Linked DNA regions of Homo sapiens. The protein of the gene in region 1 interacts with the protein of each later gene in a pairwise test. Each region holds a gene or a part of one and is shown on either strand. Other genes may lie near its edges.

Region 1 (7,039 bases):
ATCCAGTTCCCATGTTTCTTCTACCATCCTGCCTCTCTATTAATGGGTTAATAGTTCACTGAGGGTGGTGGCTTATGCCTGTAATCCCAGCATTTTGAGAGGCTGAGGCAGGAGTATTGCTTGAGGCCAGTTCAAGACCAGCATGGGCAACATAACAAGATCCTGTCTCTACAGAAGTAAAAAAAAAAAAAAAAAAATTATCTGGGTGTGGTAGCAAATACTTGTAGCCTCCCTCAGCCAGAAGGCTTAGGCAGGAGGATCACTTGAACCCAAGAGTTTAAGGTTACAGTGAGCTATAATTTTACCACCTCACTCCAGCCTGGCTGACAGAGGGAGACCCTGTCACTTTAAAAAATAAAATAAAAAAAAGTAAACCTGCCATTTTACAGGATACAGTGATAGTGCATGGTCTGATCCCTTGCCCTATTCATTTTAAGTGCCACATTCTCTATTAACTCCCCAGGGCCTGTGAGCATCCACTCCTTGAGGGAGGTGTCCATAGCATGGTGTAGAGAGCATAATTTTGTACCTTATATAGTTAAGTCATTTATTCCATGTAGCCCTGATTTGATTAGGCCTTGTTTGGTTTTTGTTTTTGTTTTTTTTGAGACAGGGTCTCTGCCCAGGCTGGAATGCAGTGGCGTGATCACGGCCCACTGCAGCCTTGACCTCCTGGGCTTAAGCGATCTTCCCACCTCAGCCTTCTGAATAGCTGGGATCATAGGCGTGTGCCACCACCCCTGGCTAATTTTTTTTTATTAATTTTTTTTTTTTAGCTAAAGATGATAAAAACAAGACAAAAAATTATTTTATTTATGTATTTTTTTTTTTTTTGAGATAGGTTCTTGCTCTGTTGCCCAGGCTGGAGTGCAGTGATGTAATCATGGCTCACTGTGGCTTCATCCTCCTAGGCTCAACCAATCCTCTCATCTCAGCCTCCCGAGTAGCTGGGACCGCAAGTGTGCACCACCATACCGAGCTAATTTTTTTATTTTTTTGTAGAGACAGGGTCTCACTGTGTTGCCCAGGCTGGTCTCGAACTCCTCCCTGGTCTCAAGTGATCCCCCCACCTCAGCCTCCTAAAGTTTTGAGATTACAGGCATGAGCCAAAATGCCTAGCCTAATTTTTTAAATTTTTTTGTAGAGGCAGGGTCTCACTATGTTGCCTAGGCTGGTCTCAAACAGCTGGACTCAAACCATCCTCCTACTTCAGCCTCCCAAAGTGTTGGGATTACAGACATGAGGCATGGCCCCCAGCCTTAGGCTTCATTTTTATGACCTATAAAATGGAGAGAATACCCTATAAATTTGTTGTAAGGCTTAAATAACGTGTGTAGAAGACTTAGTGCATTGTCTGGCATATAGAGAGCTTTCAATAATCAACAGCTATTATTATGGTGAGGCAAGAGCACAAGCTCTTGAGTCATACCTCTAACATTCACTTGGCTTTACTACTTTAATTTGTGTGGCACCGACCAAAGCACTTAATTTCCCCGTGCCTCAGTTTCTTCACCTTTGAAATAAGGATAATAATAGTGAAGAAGTTAATATATGTAAGGAATTTAAAATAGCATTTGACACATAAGTGCCATGCAAGTGTTAGTTGTTAATGACTGTTGCTGTCGACTCTGGTTAGACTGTAAATTCCTTAAGTTATCATCTTTTTTTATTGATTTTCCCTTCCCCCACCTACAAAACCTATCTTAGTGGTGAAACATAAGCCTGACCAAATGTTTTATTTTGGGGCATACTTAACTAATAAGTCTGAAGTGACAAGGATTTACTGTGTTGTGCTGTACTCAGCCATAAGGAACATTCTAAAGCAGAAGTTGGCAGACTTTTTGTGAAGAGCCAGATAGCAAATACTTTAGACTTCACAGACCATGTGGTCTCTGGCACAATTTCTCAGCTCTGCAGTTCTAGTGGAAAAGCAGTTATAGACACTACATAAACAAATAAGCGTGACTGTAGTTTTTTGACCCCTTCCCTAATGTCTAGACTGTGAGCTCAACAATGACAGTCTTTTTCATCTTTGTGCCCCTGTGACTAGCAGATACTAGGTACTGTTGTATGTTTGCTGAATGAATGAGCACACAGATTCTGAACAACACAGATTCCAAGTATGTGGAATCAGCAGGGTCGTCCTGGCATCAGAAATCAGTTCTCTCTTTTTTTTTTTTTTGACACAGAGTCTCGCTCTGTCACTCAGGCTGGAGTGCAGTGGCGCAATCTCGGATCACTGCAACCTCCGCCTCCTGGGTTCAAGTGATTCTTCTGCCTCAGCCTCCCGAGTAGCTGGGATTATAGACGTGCGCCACATGCCTGGCTAATTTTTTGTGTTTGTTAGTAGAGATGGGTTTCACCATGTTGGCCAGGCTGGTTTCGAACTCCTGACCTCGAGTGATCTGCCTGCCTCAGCCTCCCAAAGTGTTGGGATTACAGGTGTGAGTCACCGTGCCCGGCCAGCAATCAGTTCTCTTTGTCAACTTTATTTAGTTGCCTGTGGGACCCTGACATTCTGTATCTGTGCTCCTATGGCCTCTGGAGATGTGTGTGAAAATTGTCTCCTCGGCCCTTAGCCTACTTCACCTCTTGTGCTCACAAAAAGGGGACAGAGAGGAGGGAGAGGAATCCAGCAAGATGAAGCCAGCCTGAGAGAGCATAAAAACCAGTCATTGGTATTGTGGTCTTGCCCAAATCTTTCCCTCGTGTGAAGGAAGCCTTTGACAGTGAAGTTTAGAATTAAATACAGGGCCAGCTGAAGCATGGTGAAGCCCTCCAACTGCCTTTGCCTTGCAGAGCAGTCCATCATCAGCGAGTATGAGAAGAGCTTGCAGTTTGATGAAAAGTGTCTCAGCATCATGCTGGCTGAGTGGGAGGCAAACCCACTCATCTGTCCTGTATGTACAAAGTAAGAGTTTTTAAAACCTTTTCAGCATTATTCGTTCCCATTCCCCACTCCAAGGTGAGTGGAATCTCCCCCCAGATTTGTTGCCTGAAATTCAAGGTTTGGAGATCCAGGTCTGGTGGCCATGATGCTCTGGGATCCTAATTCTGCTTCTAGGTACAACCTGAGAATCACAAGCGGTGTGGTGGTGTGTCAGTGTGGCCTGTCCATCCCATCTCATGTGAGTGTTCCACACACAGATTTCATGATACTTCTTCCCACATGGATCTACTTTCTTGAAGATCCTCCAGTGCTGACTTGGAGCCCATTGTGCATATTTCTTCCCAGTTTTATGTTCAGTGGTGTCACATTGGTAGCTTCAAATCAGCCATGGTGAGAATATCTATGGCATGAAAATTGGCAAACAGTACACATCAGAGCCTTTAGGGCCCTGGAGAGCCATCACCGCTTAACGTTTTTATGGAGACCTCAGCTTGGGATTGGTAACGCCTGTATCTGACGTTTCATAAAAATTTTCTATATATGAAGACATACCTAATTCAGAATTTAAGCTTCAGTAATTTTTTTTTTTTTTTTTTTGAGACGGAGTCTCACTCTGTTGCCCAGGCTGGAGTACAGTGGCGTGATTTAGGCTCACTGCAACCTCTGCCTTGCGGGTTCAAGTCATTCTCCTGCCTCAGCCTCCCAAGTAGCTGGGATTACAGGTGCCTGCCACCACGCCCGGCTAATTTTTTTTTTATTTTTAGTAGAGATGGGTTTTCACCATCTTGGCCAGGCTGGTCTCGAACTCCTGACTTCGTGATCCACCCACTTCAGCCTTCCAAAGTGCTGGGATTACAGGTGTGAGCCACCACGCCCGGCCTTCAGTAATCTTAAAATACAGAAAAAGCCCTTTTATCTGGCATGATGGGGACTGCAAGTTTGCCAGTTAATTGAGCGATTGGTTAAAGAGGCAAATTATAAAAATAAAATGTTTTATGGTAAGTTTCAAACACATAAATTTATTTGCCAGCCTTTGAGTGGGGCCCTGCTGATTGGAGAGCTGAGTCACCTGTTTTATTTTTTATTTTATTTGAGACAGAGTCTCACTCTGTCACCCAGGCTGGAGTGCAGTGGTGTGATCTCTGCTCACTGCAACCTCCACCTCCCGAGTTCAAGCGAATCTCCTGCCTCAGCCTCTTGAGTAGCTGGGATTACAGGCACGTGCCACCATGCCTGGCTAATTTTTGTATTTTTAGTAGAGACGGGGTTTCACCATGTTGGTCACGCTGGTCTCGAACTCCTGACTTCAGGTGATCTGCCCACCTTGGCCTCCCAAAGTGTTGGGATTACAAGCGTGAGCCACTGTGCCTCGCTGAGTCACCTTTTTTACATAAACAACTTCTATAATACATAGTCCAGAGTTTCCGGTTTTAATTCCATAAAGTGGATCAAGAAACTGAGTATACAACTTAGGAATTTTTCCTCCCCATCTTTTACCTAATTCTATAGCTCTTTTTCTTTCTTTCTTTTTTTTTTAAGCAGCTCATCTGTTTGTTTCCTAAACATTCTACTTATCACTATAAAAATAAAACTTATTATTTACATAATAAGTAATTAGCATTACTGAGTTACAGTAGGAAGTTCAAGTAACCCAAGCAGACCCGGGAGCATATACTGCTAGTTGTTGGTAAGGATGCACTCAGCTGGTGGGGGCAGAGGCAGAGGGAGGCTGGAAAGTAGCCTACAATCTCTGAGCGTTCTTCCTGCCATGAGTGGCCATCAGTGTGTTTGACAGCAGGAGTAGAGGGCGTTGGTTAATCTGGAGAGGCAGTTAAATGGAGATGGGTTAAGAGATCTTGGTACAGTCATGGGCCCGAGTGTCTTTAAGGCTCCAAGGAGTCAAGCCATCACAGTGAGCCACGGTTATATTGGTTGGCATGAGGAATGAGGATTTTCCATCTGTTGGCTATCAAGTCACTGAGAGGAGGTTGAACTTTTTTATTTTGTAGTCTTCTGAGTTGACAGAGCAGAAGCTTCGTGCCTGTTTAGAGGGTAGTATAAATGAGCACAGTGCACATTGTCCCCACACACCTGAATTTTCAGTCACTGGAGGAACAGAAGAAAAGTCCAGTCTTCTCATGAGCTGTCTGGTAAGCGTCTCCTGGGACCCACTCTGTGGTAAGAGGGACCTGTGGTTGGTTTTATTCCCACCTTGATAGAAATAATGACCTATAAACAGGTAAATGTTTAATGCAGTTTATTATCTGAGGAATTTACCTGCATAGAAAAGTGAAGGTAACAAGTCATTTAGACTCAAAGGCCAGTCAGAAAGAAGGGAAGAGGCAGCATGGGATCACGGCAAGAGGATTGGTCTGGGAGTTAGGACGCCTGGCTCCACACCTGCTCTTCTTTGATCAGTAGTAGTGGTTTTGGATTCAGCTGGTCATTTCATAGTCATAAGACCCAGATAGGCCATGCTGGCACCACTTTTGCGGAAGGAAACAGGGCAGAAGCATAGCAGGGCAGCATTAGGTTTGTCTGTCAGTGGAGTTTTTACAGAGGTCCAAGGGCTATTCGCTAACCTGAGTGACAACTGAGGTGTGAGGGCCAGGAACACAAGTGGGTAAGGGAACCACCTGTCTTAGAAGCGTGCTATAGGAACCAATATCTCTTATAATCCATGTCCTTTCCATATATGTGTATGTATGTATGTACATGTGTATATATATCACACAAACACACATAAAACCAATATGATACGTATTATTATTGCTTTTAGATCCCAGGCAGGGGGAGCCTTGGGATTAGGAGCACACTGTACTTCAGGAAGTTCATAGCCATGGCTTTCTACTGGGAATTTAGAATTCCTTCATGGCCCTGTCATTCCAAATGCAGTTAACCTACAGAGGTCATTTTTATTATAAGCAGCATTGCCTGGTAACAGCCATTTCACCTTTATCAAGTTTCTTCCATAGGTATTCTACTCATTCATTAAAAAAAAAATGAATTGAGGACTCATTAACATTGAGAAATACACATCTCTCACAGAGCTCAAGCCTTGGGTTGGTAATAAGAGAACAGAATAAACAGGCAGTACCCTGGAGAGCTGTACAAGGAGGGCTTATGGGAGTTCAGAGGAGGGTGATCTCCTTTATGGTGACACCTTCCTGGAGGAGGCATTTAACTTGGCCTTGAAGCATGGAATCGATCTGGACAGACATGGAGATCTGGTGAGTTGTGGGGGTAGAGCTTAAGTGGAAGATCCCCACATAGAAGAACAAGGCAGAGAAGCAGGAAACTGGAGTATATACAAAGAGCATCTTGTTCTACTTAGCTGGAGCATTAGGTTCATGAGGGAGAGGATAGTTCCTGTTAGGAATAGGAAACAGATTCAGAGAAGTGATGTAATCTGGCCAAAATTTTACTACTAATAAGCGATAGAGCTGGTGTTAGACCCCAGGTCTTTGTGGTTCCAGTGCCCCTGCTGTTTCCTGCTCCAGGCTCAGGCCTTGGTGGAAGGATGCCATTTTCCATCAGCTTGTATGGAAAGAGACATAGCAGGTGAAAGTTTAAATAAAACCCCTCACTACTTCCTGTTGACTACAAGCATATGTTCCCTTCTGTTCCAGCTATCCAGCACTGGTAGCAGATGCTCAAATATGCAGTGCTTTCAGGCCTCTGTGCTGTTGTTTAGGCTGTTCTGTCTGAATGACTTTGACTCCTCCCACTACATTTAAGGATCATTTGCACAAATATTTACCAAGCACTACAATATGCCGTGTACTTCATTCAGCCTGATTCCTCACAAGGAATTGGCCAGTCTCAGCTGGCCACGGTGGCTCACGCCTGTAATCCCAGCACTTTGGGAGGCCGAGGTGGGCAGATCACCTGAGGTCAGGAGTTTAAGACCAGCCTGGCCAACATGGTGAAACCCCATCTTTACTAAAAATACAAAACTTAGCTGGACATGGTGGTGGGTGCCTGTAATCTCAGCTACTCGGGAGGCTGGGGCAGGAGAATCGCTTGAACCCGGGAGGCGGAGGTTGCAGTGAGCTGAGATCGTGCTGCTGGATTCCAGCCTGGGCAACAGGGTGAGATTCTGTCTCAAAAACAGAATTGGTGGCTGAGTGCGGTGGCTCACGCCTGTAA
Region 2 (7,039 bases), on another chromosome or scaffold:
CCATTTTGCTTATACCTGCTCTATTGATAAGGCTTAGGAGTTTCTCAAGTAAAATTAATTAGAGATTCAGCAATGTGGCTTTAAGTAGAATTGACTGTTTTCGTTTGTGCTATTTTTTTCACCCACAGACTGGTTGAAATAGCAGAATCCCGTTTTCCCAGATATTTTAACACTGAAGAAAAGTTACTTTTGACAAGTAGTAAAGTTCATCTTTATCGGGAACTCACCTGTGATGAAGTTCTACAAAGGTATGCTGCTTTAGATTTTGATTTTTTAGTAATGCGTTGAAGGTTTATGTTTTATCTTTTATGTTTCAGCTTCTAAGTGAAAAAAGTCTTTATAGGTTAGAATTATGTGGAGTAACTTTTTCAGTGTTCTTCTTTGTTATAGCCTTTTGGTTGAAGTCTTTCTTGAAAAACAAAAAAAATTAAATGAATAAAATGTTCTGTATTTAATTAATTAAGTGGTGTATTATTTATCTATTGTTTCATTAACAAATTGTCTCACAGTTTAGTAGCTTAAAACAGCAAATACATATTATTTCACATAGTTTCTGAGGGTTAAGTGTCTGGGAGTAGCTTAGCTGGGTGTTTCTGGCTCAATGTCGCTCAAGAGGTTATAGTCAAGCTGGTGGCCAGGGCTGCAGTTATCTTAAGGCTTGACTGGAGCTGGAGTACCTGCTTCCAAGCTCCCTAATATAGTTGTTGGAAGCCCTCTGTTTCTTGCTGGCAGTGGGCAAGAGACCTTTGTTCCTTACCGTCTGGGCCTCTCCATAAATCACAACATAGCAAGTTGCTTTCCTCAGAGTAAGTGACCTGAGAGACTGGGCAAGTGAAAGAGTACCCAAGATGGAAGCTGTAGTCTTTTATAACCCACACTCAGAAATAAGGTACCATGATCTTGTCATATGCTTGTGGTCATACAGATCAAGTCTGGCACACTGTGGGAGGGACCTATACAAGGATGCAAAATACCAAGAGGAGGGAGTAAGTGTGGGCCATTTTGCAGACTGGCTACCACAAGTAGTTTTACCCCAGAATTGGAGCGTTAACATTATCTTAGGAGAATCAAGGAATTCTGAAACTACACAGAAACAGTTTGCTCTGTTTCCAGAAAAGTATGATATGTCTACAAGTTAGGTTTACTGAATTCTTGCAAATCATTACTGTAACTTAGGAAAGAATAGTTTATTGTTTTTAAGTTGCTTAGCCTTTGCAATACCTTTATTTATTTATTTTATCTTAAATTTATTGACTATTTTATAAATTCTTCTTTTATAGGATTGAATCTTTGGAAGAAGAAATTATCTCAAAAGGAATTAAACTTGTGATTCTTGACTCTGTTGCTTCTGTGGTCAGAAAGGAGTTTGATGCACAACTTCAAGGCAATCTCAAAGAAAGAAACAAGTTCTTGGCAAGAGAGGCATCCTCCTTGAAGTATTTGGCTGAGGAGTTTTCAATCCCAGTAAGTTTTTCTTTTTTTCTCTTTTTTCTTTTCCTTTCTTTTGTTTCTTTTATATTACATTCACTGACTTATGGTATCAAATAATAAAATTAGAGGAAAATGTAAAACAGATGACTTTTTAAAGGTAGTACAGTCTAATTGCTATAGCAAACATCGCCATCATCTTAAATTAGCTCATCTGCTGAGATTATTTTATTATTTTAATAATTTGAGTCTGGAGTAGATTTAAACGATGTTTTTAAAAGTTCCTATAGTCCCTCCTTTTCTTCCTTCTCATTGTTTACTCTTTGTGTGTGCTTTGTATCACATTTCTCACACTGCAGTAAATATAAAGTAGTAAAACTTCATGAAATTGCCTAGATCTATTTCTATATAATTAAAAAAAATACTGCAGTTGTTGTTAGTTTTGTTTTAAGTATTTTAGGTTTAGATACTGTGTTATTGTGTTCAGCGCTGTTTTGTGTACAATAGGATTTGGTTTGCTTCAAATGGTCAGAGGTCAACCATTAAGAGATGTTGGAATGATAGTAATGAAAGTGTCAGTAAGAAAACCTTGAAAGATTATTTGTGGCATGGCTTTTTGTAGCGGGCATTGTGATCAGAAATCTGAAGATGACAGGCTATTACAAGGGCTTGTGATGTGTAACCTGCAAGACGTAAGTGTGTACTAAGTTACACTCCCATCTGCAGTGTGTCAGGGAGTTTTAGTCGTTGTTCCACAGCCTCATCAACATTCAGGCTTCTCAATTTTAGTCATGCTTCATCTCAAGAAAAGATAGTTCCTTAAACTGAGATAAAATTTGGTTATGATTTTATAATTTTTAGATTTGTTTTTGGAAAATTAAAATCTTGGATCTTTGCAACATAAAGAATATGTATAAATAATATAAACTATCACACAGCCTTTGAGGTTTATAAAACCAAGGAAGAAGTCAAGGGAGAAAATATGACATTCAAAAAGTTCTGCATACTTTAATGGCTTTTTAGTTTATATTTTGAATTAAAGTCAAGTGCTGTTAAGTTTGTCTTGGGTGATGTTCATCTTTTACATTTTATTGTAGTTGGTTAAAATGATAAATTCAAATTTATATTTTTCCTGATCAAGGAGAATAAGGGAACTTTGAAATACTGTATAAAGATACTTGATTGAATAGAAAGTTATGTATATAGTTGGCCCTCTGTATCTGTGGGTTCTGCATCCATGGATTCAACCAACTAAAGATAGGAGATATTTGAAAAAGCAATGGGTGTGGTAGTGTGCCCCTGCAGTCTCAGCTACTCAAGAGGCTGAGGTGGGAGGATCACTTAGGCGCAGGAGGTTGAGGTTGCATTGAGCCATGTTCATGTCACTGCACTTCAGCCTGGGAGACAGAGTGAGACCCTCTCTCTAAAAATATATATATATATTTGAAAGAAAAGAAAAGGATAGTTGTCTTTGTACTGAACATGTACAGACTTTTTTCTTGTCATGATTCCCTATAGTTAAGCAGAGATTTACATAGCATGTACATTGTATTGGGTATTATAAGTAATGTAAAGTTGATTTAAAGTATACCAGAGAATGTACATAGATTATGTGCAAACACTGCACCATTTTATATGAGGGACTTGAGCATCCGTGGATTATGGTATCTGCAGAGGAGTCCTGGAACCAATCCCCCATGGATACAGGGGGATGACTATATATTCTTATTTTATTATTAATTCATACTGTTGCTTGACTTAATTCCGTGCAAAATAAAATTCACTTTTTAAATGTTGTGTTTGTTTGCTTTTAAGTAGTAACTGTAGGCTAATGCTTTTCAGTTTTTCCTAAGGTGATTTATTTTCCCAAGTGAGAAAGGGGCACTGCTTTTCTTTGTTTTTAATAGAACCCTCTGAAAAAATAGGTACTGAATATCCCATTTCTATGCCTTTGGCTTTGTTTCTCTATTTAGAAATAAATGCAGATTATACTATGTACTTATATAACTGTGATATCTGTTTTTTGTGACAATTAAGATTGTAAGATTGGTTTTAAAAGGATTTTGAAAAATATTTCCTTTAGAAAATGTTGGAATTTTCCTAGCTAAATTGATACATTTAAATGGAAAATCTCTCACACAGGTCCGAGATTTAATTAAAAAAAAAAAAAGGAAATCATGAACTTTTACACATTTATACTGTACTTTGAACAGGCACCATAGTACTGTTCAAATTAATTATGTCAATTTAATATGTTATATATGATAATTTGCTAAATTAAATTATTGCTTGCTATATATATAAGCTTACCTCACAGATTGTCTTGAAATATGTATATAAATATAAATATATAAAAATAAAAAATATATATAATAAAAATATATAAATATATAAAATGTGATTATTCAGCTTTTCCCCCCCTTTCTCTATTTGAACTAGTACTAGAAAACCTCGTCTTTTGGGAAGGGTGACATCATTTGGCCCTTATGTGCGCATGAATGCATTTAAGTTTTAAGTATGCTGTTGCTTTTTTCTACGTTAGTCCCTGAGAATTAAAGAGGAATTAATCGATATCACTTGATTGAAAACAGATGTATTAATATCTTTCAGAAGTTTTCAATTATAAGATGGCTTTACTAATATTTTGAGGCTATCACTGAAATGAAAACATAAAATTAAAAAATTTTCACAGAGAATTTTATAGACCTTTGAGTATGTTCAGACTGCAGTTTTGAGAAACAGTTGTAGAAGTCTGGTAGAATCTTTTCTCCTGAAGTTTATGGAGGAGGTGTAAGTGATACTCTGCCATTGGGATGGAAGATGCGGAACCTTTGTCTTTTTAAAGTGTTCACACTAGTATTGAAAAAACAGTAGGCTCTGAAGCTGTTTAGAGATACTGGATAAAAGTAACCGAAAAAAATTTAAATACTGCTTTATAAAATAAATTGTGGTTATGGCTATTTATGTTGACTTTATCATTGACTTCTAATTACCACGTACAGAATAGTTATTATACGTATTGTAAATTATGTATCAGATTAAAATAATAGGATGTTTTTGCCAGAAAGGACCTTAAAGAAAATTTAGTTTGGCCCCTTCATTTTACAGATGACAATGAATCCGAAAAGTGACCTGATTTGCTCCAGGACACTCAACATAGGAAAGGACAAACAGTGGGTAGAATGAGAGATCTTTTAGCTGCCAGTTTGGGGATTTTTTTTTTTCCACAGCAGAATTTTCTTTTTTTCTGAGACATACAGAATTACGGTGGACTGTAAACTTCTTTTTATTTATTTATTATTATTATTATACTTTAAGTTTTAGGGTACATGTGCACAATGTGCAGGTTAGTTACATATGTATACATGTGCCATGCTGGTGCGCTGCACCCACTAACTCGTCATCTAGCATTAGGTATATCTCCCAGTGCTATCCCTCCCCCCTCCCCCCACCCCACAACAGTCCCCAGAGTGTAAACTTCTTAATGACAGGATTATATTTTCTGTTTCTCTGATTTCCAGGACCTAGCACTGTGGATAACTAATATTTAGGAGGTAACAGCTAATGAAAGTACAATTAAGGTTTATGAAAATAGTCTTACCATATGTATGTCATATTTACATTCATTGGAATATTTTTCTTTATCTTTTAAAACATAATTTGAATTTTTTTATGCTTGCTGCTGAAATTCTTATGTTTTTGTTTTTAAATTGACCTTTGTAGTATGCCATCTTAGTTGTATTCTTTTTATTTATTTTCCATTCCAGAGTTTTATAAGTTGTTGGAATAAAAGAAAATGAAAATGCATTGCTTAGATAACAGGACTTTCACCTTTTGAAAATTCTTTGGAAATGCTTTTTACTGGTATTTCCAAGGTCTACATTTTTACTTTTTCAGAGAATTCAACAAATCAATTTCAGTTGTTATATGAATAATATTGAACTTTTTTGTCTCCCCTTAATCTTCTTCTACTTCCTTCATTTCTTGATATTGTACAAATGTTTTCTGGTGTAAGGGGAGGAGTACCAGTTAACACTATTTACAAAAGAGGTTTATGGAGATAAATTTGGATATATTATTAAATATTCTAAGAGGGAAATGCCTTATTTTCATTGAAAGTTGTTGTTAAAATCCAAATTATTTTACTAAGATGTGCTTATAATCCGTTTTTCTGTGGCCATCTGTGTTCTTGATTACATGCCTTTTGAGAATATCCATTGCTCTAATTTATTGCTTATCAAGGTTTTTGGAATATTAGTGATTATTTTTATGTTTAAAGCTGCTTAGACAAATGAATCAAAATATGTGCATTTTAAATTTTGCTATTTTAAAGACAGTTTTAAATCATTAACAAATGGAAAGAATTTGTTCTGGTTTTAAAGTGGACATATAACAAGGTTAAATTTTTTATTATTATTTGAGACAAGCACAAATTTTTTTTTCCTCTTTTTAATGGTGAACTTCATGTGGGCCTGGATTTATTTATTTATTTATTTATTTTACACCATGAGCTGTTCCATTATGCCAAGTGGGTTTAATTTATGCAGGATTATACCTTGTCTTAGATACTAATAAATATTCAAAATAGAAAAATAAGAAACTAGGCCACTTCATTTAAAATAATTAAGGTTTTATTAATTATAAATTGGGAATATTGTGTTTATAACTGGTGAGATAAGAGGAAAAAGAATGTATGTACCCAAATTCGACATTTATTTTTATCTTAAACATAAATATTCAGAACTGTCACTTTTGTGAAAGCCTGATGAAGTCACTCTGATTGTAAAGTAGGAATCCTAGACCCTTGATGTAGACATAGATATGCCATTAAAACTGCAGTCCTGTTTTGCTGTGTGTAACATTGTTGTATCACTTTTCTAGAAATGTAATTTTTGGTTTACTCTTATTACTTTCATATTTTTACTGAAAACAAGCACCACAGGACTTCTGAGGTAAGAAAAGTCCTTTACAGGATTTTTCTTTTCCATAAATGCTTACTGTTGGCTCACTCACATTTGAAATCAGATTGTTCTTAAACCTATCCTATGTTCATTCAGGTCCCTGAAACTCACAGTCTAGACTAAACCTTTATCAGTTAGTGAAAATAATTCTAGAAAAAGTGTATCTTTCTTTTATGTAGCTCTTTATGACTTCTGAAACTTTGTTTTTATTGTTTCTAGCAAAAACCTAGAAACAACTTAAAAGTTAGTAAGTAGGTGATTGGCTAAATTAATGTTGACATATCCATACAATATTATATTGTGCCACTGTTACAATGAATGGTTTAGCCCAGAAATGGATTCATAGGTTATGCAGGCAAGGGTTAATTCAGCTAGCATGGGTTACTCATATCCAGCCATTCCCAAAAAAGGCCTCTTTTCAGGACTGCCCTTGCCTGGCTCCTGGGAGATGAGTGCTGGGCCCTGGGAATACTCTGCCTAGTAAGGGTGTTATATGCCTGAGGACTTGAGCCACAGGTACTGGTTTGATCAGATTGTTTATGCAAACAGTGTGATTTATGGTGAAGCCTATTTTTCTCTGGGGATCTGGGGACTACAATCTAAATAGCTGAGGTCATCTGCATGCAGGCATTGCATGCCTAGTGACTGAC

What was found.
Region 2: the proteins of RPAIN (region 1) and RAD51B interact in binary tests that used the Homo sapiens proteins (3 or more experiments, as listed by UniProt).

What each region holds. Positions count from the first base shown.
Region 1 is NC_000017.11:5,423,172-5,430,210, forward strand, and holds part of RPAIN (RPA-interacting protein), read left to right. Parts: intron 1-2,799; coding exon 2,800-2,911; intron 2,912-2,965; coding exon of another isoform or gene 2,966-3,036; exon of another isoform or gene 3,037-3,058; intron 3,059-3,064; coding exon 3,065-3,128; intron 3,129-4,899; coding exon 4,900-5,040; coding exon of another isoform or gene 5,041-5,106; exon of another isoform or gene 5,107-6,490; intron 6,491-7,039. UniProt on the Homo sapiens protein: Mediates the import of RPA complex into the nucleus, possibly via some interaction with importin beta.
Region 2 is NC_000014.9:67,885,741-67,892,779, forward strand, and holds part of RAD51B (DNA repair protein RAD51 homolog 2), read left to right. Parts: intron 1-128; coding exon 129-248; intron 249-1,280; coding exon 1,281-1,464; intron 1,465-7,039. UniProt on the Homo sapiens protein: Involved in the homologous recombination repair (HRR) pathway of double-stranded DNA breaks arising during DNA replication or induced by DNA-damaging agents. May promote the assembly of presynaptic RAD51 nucleoprotein filaments.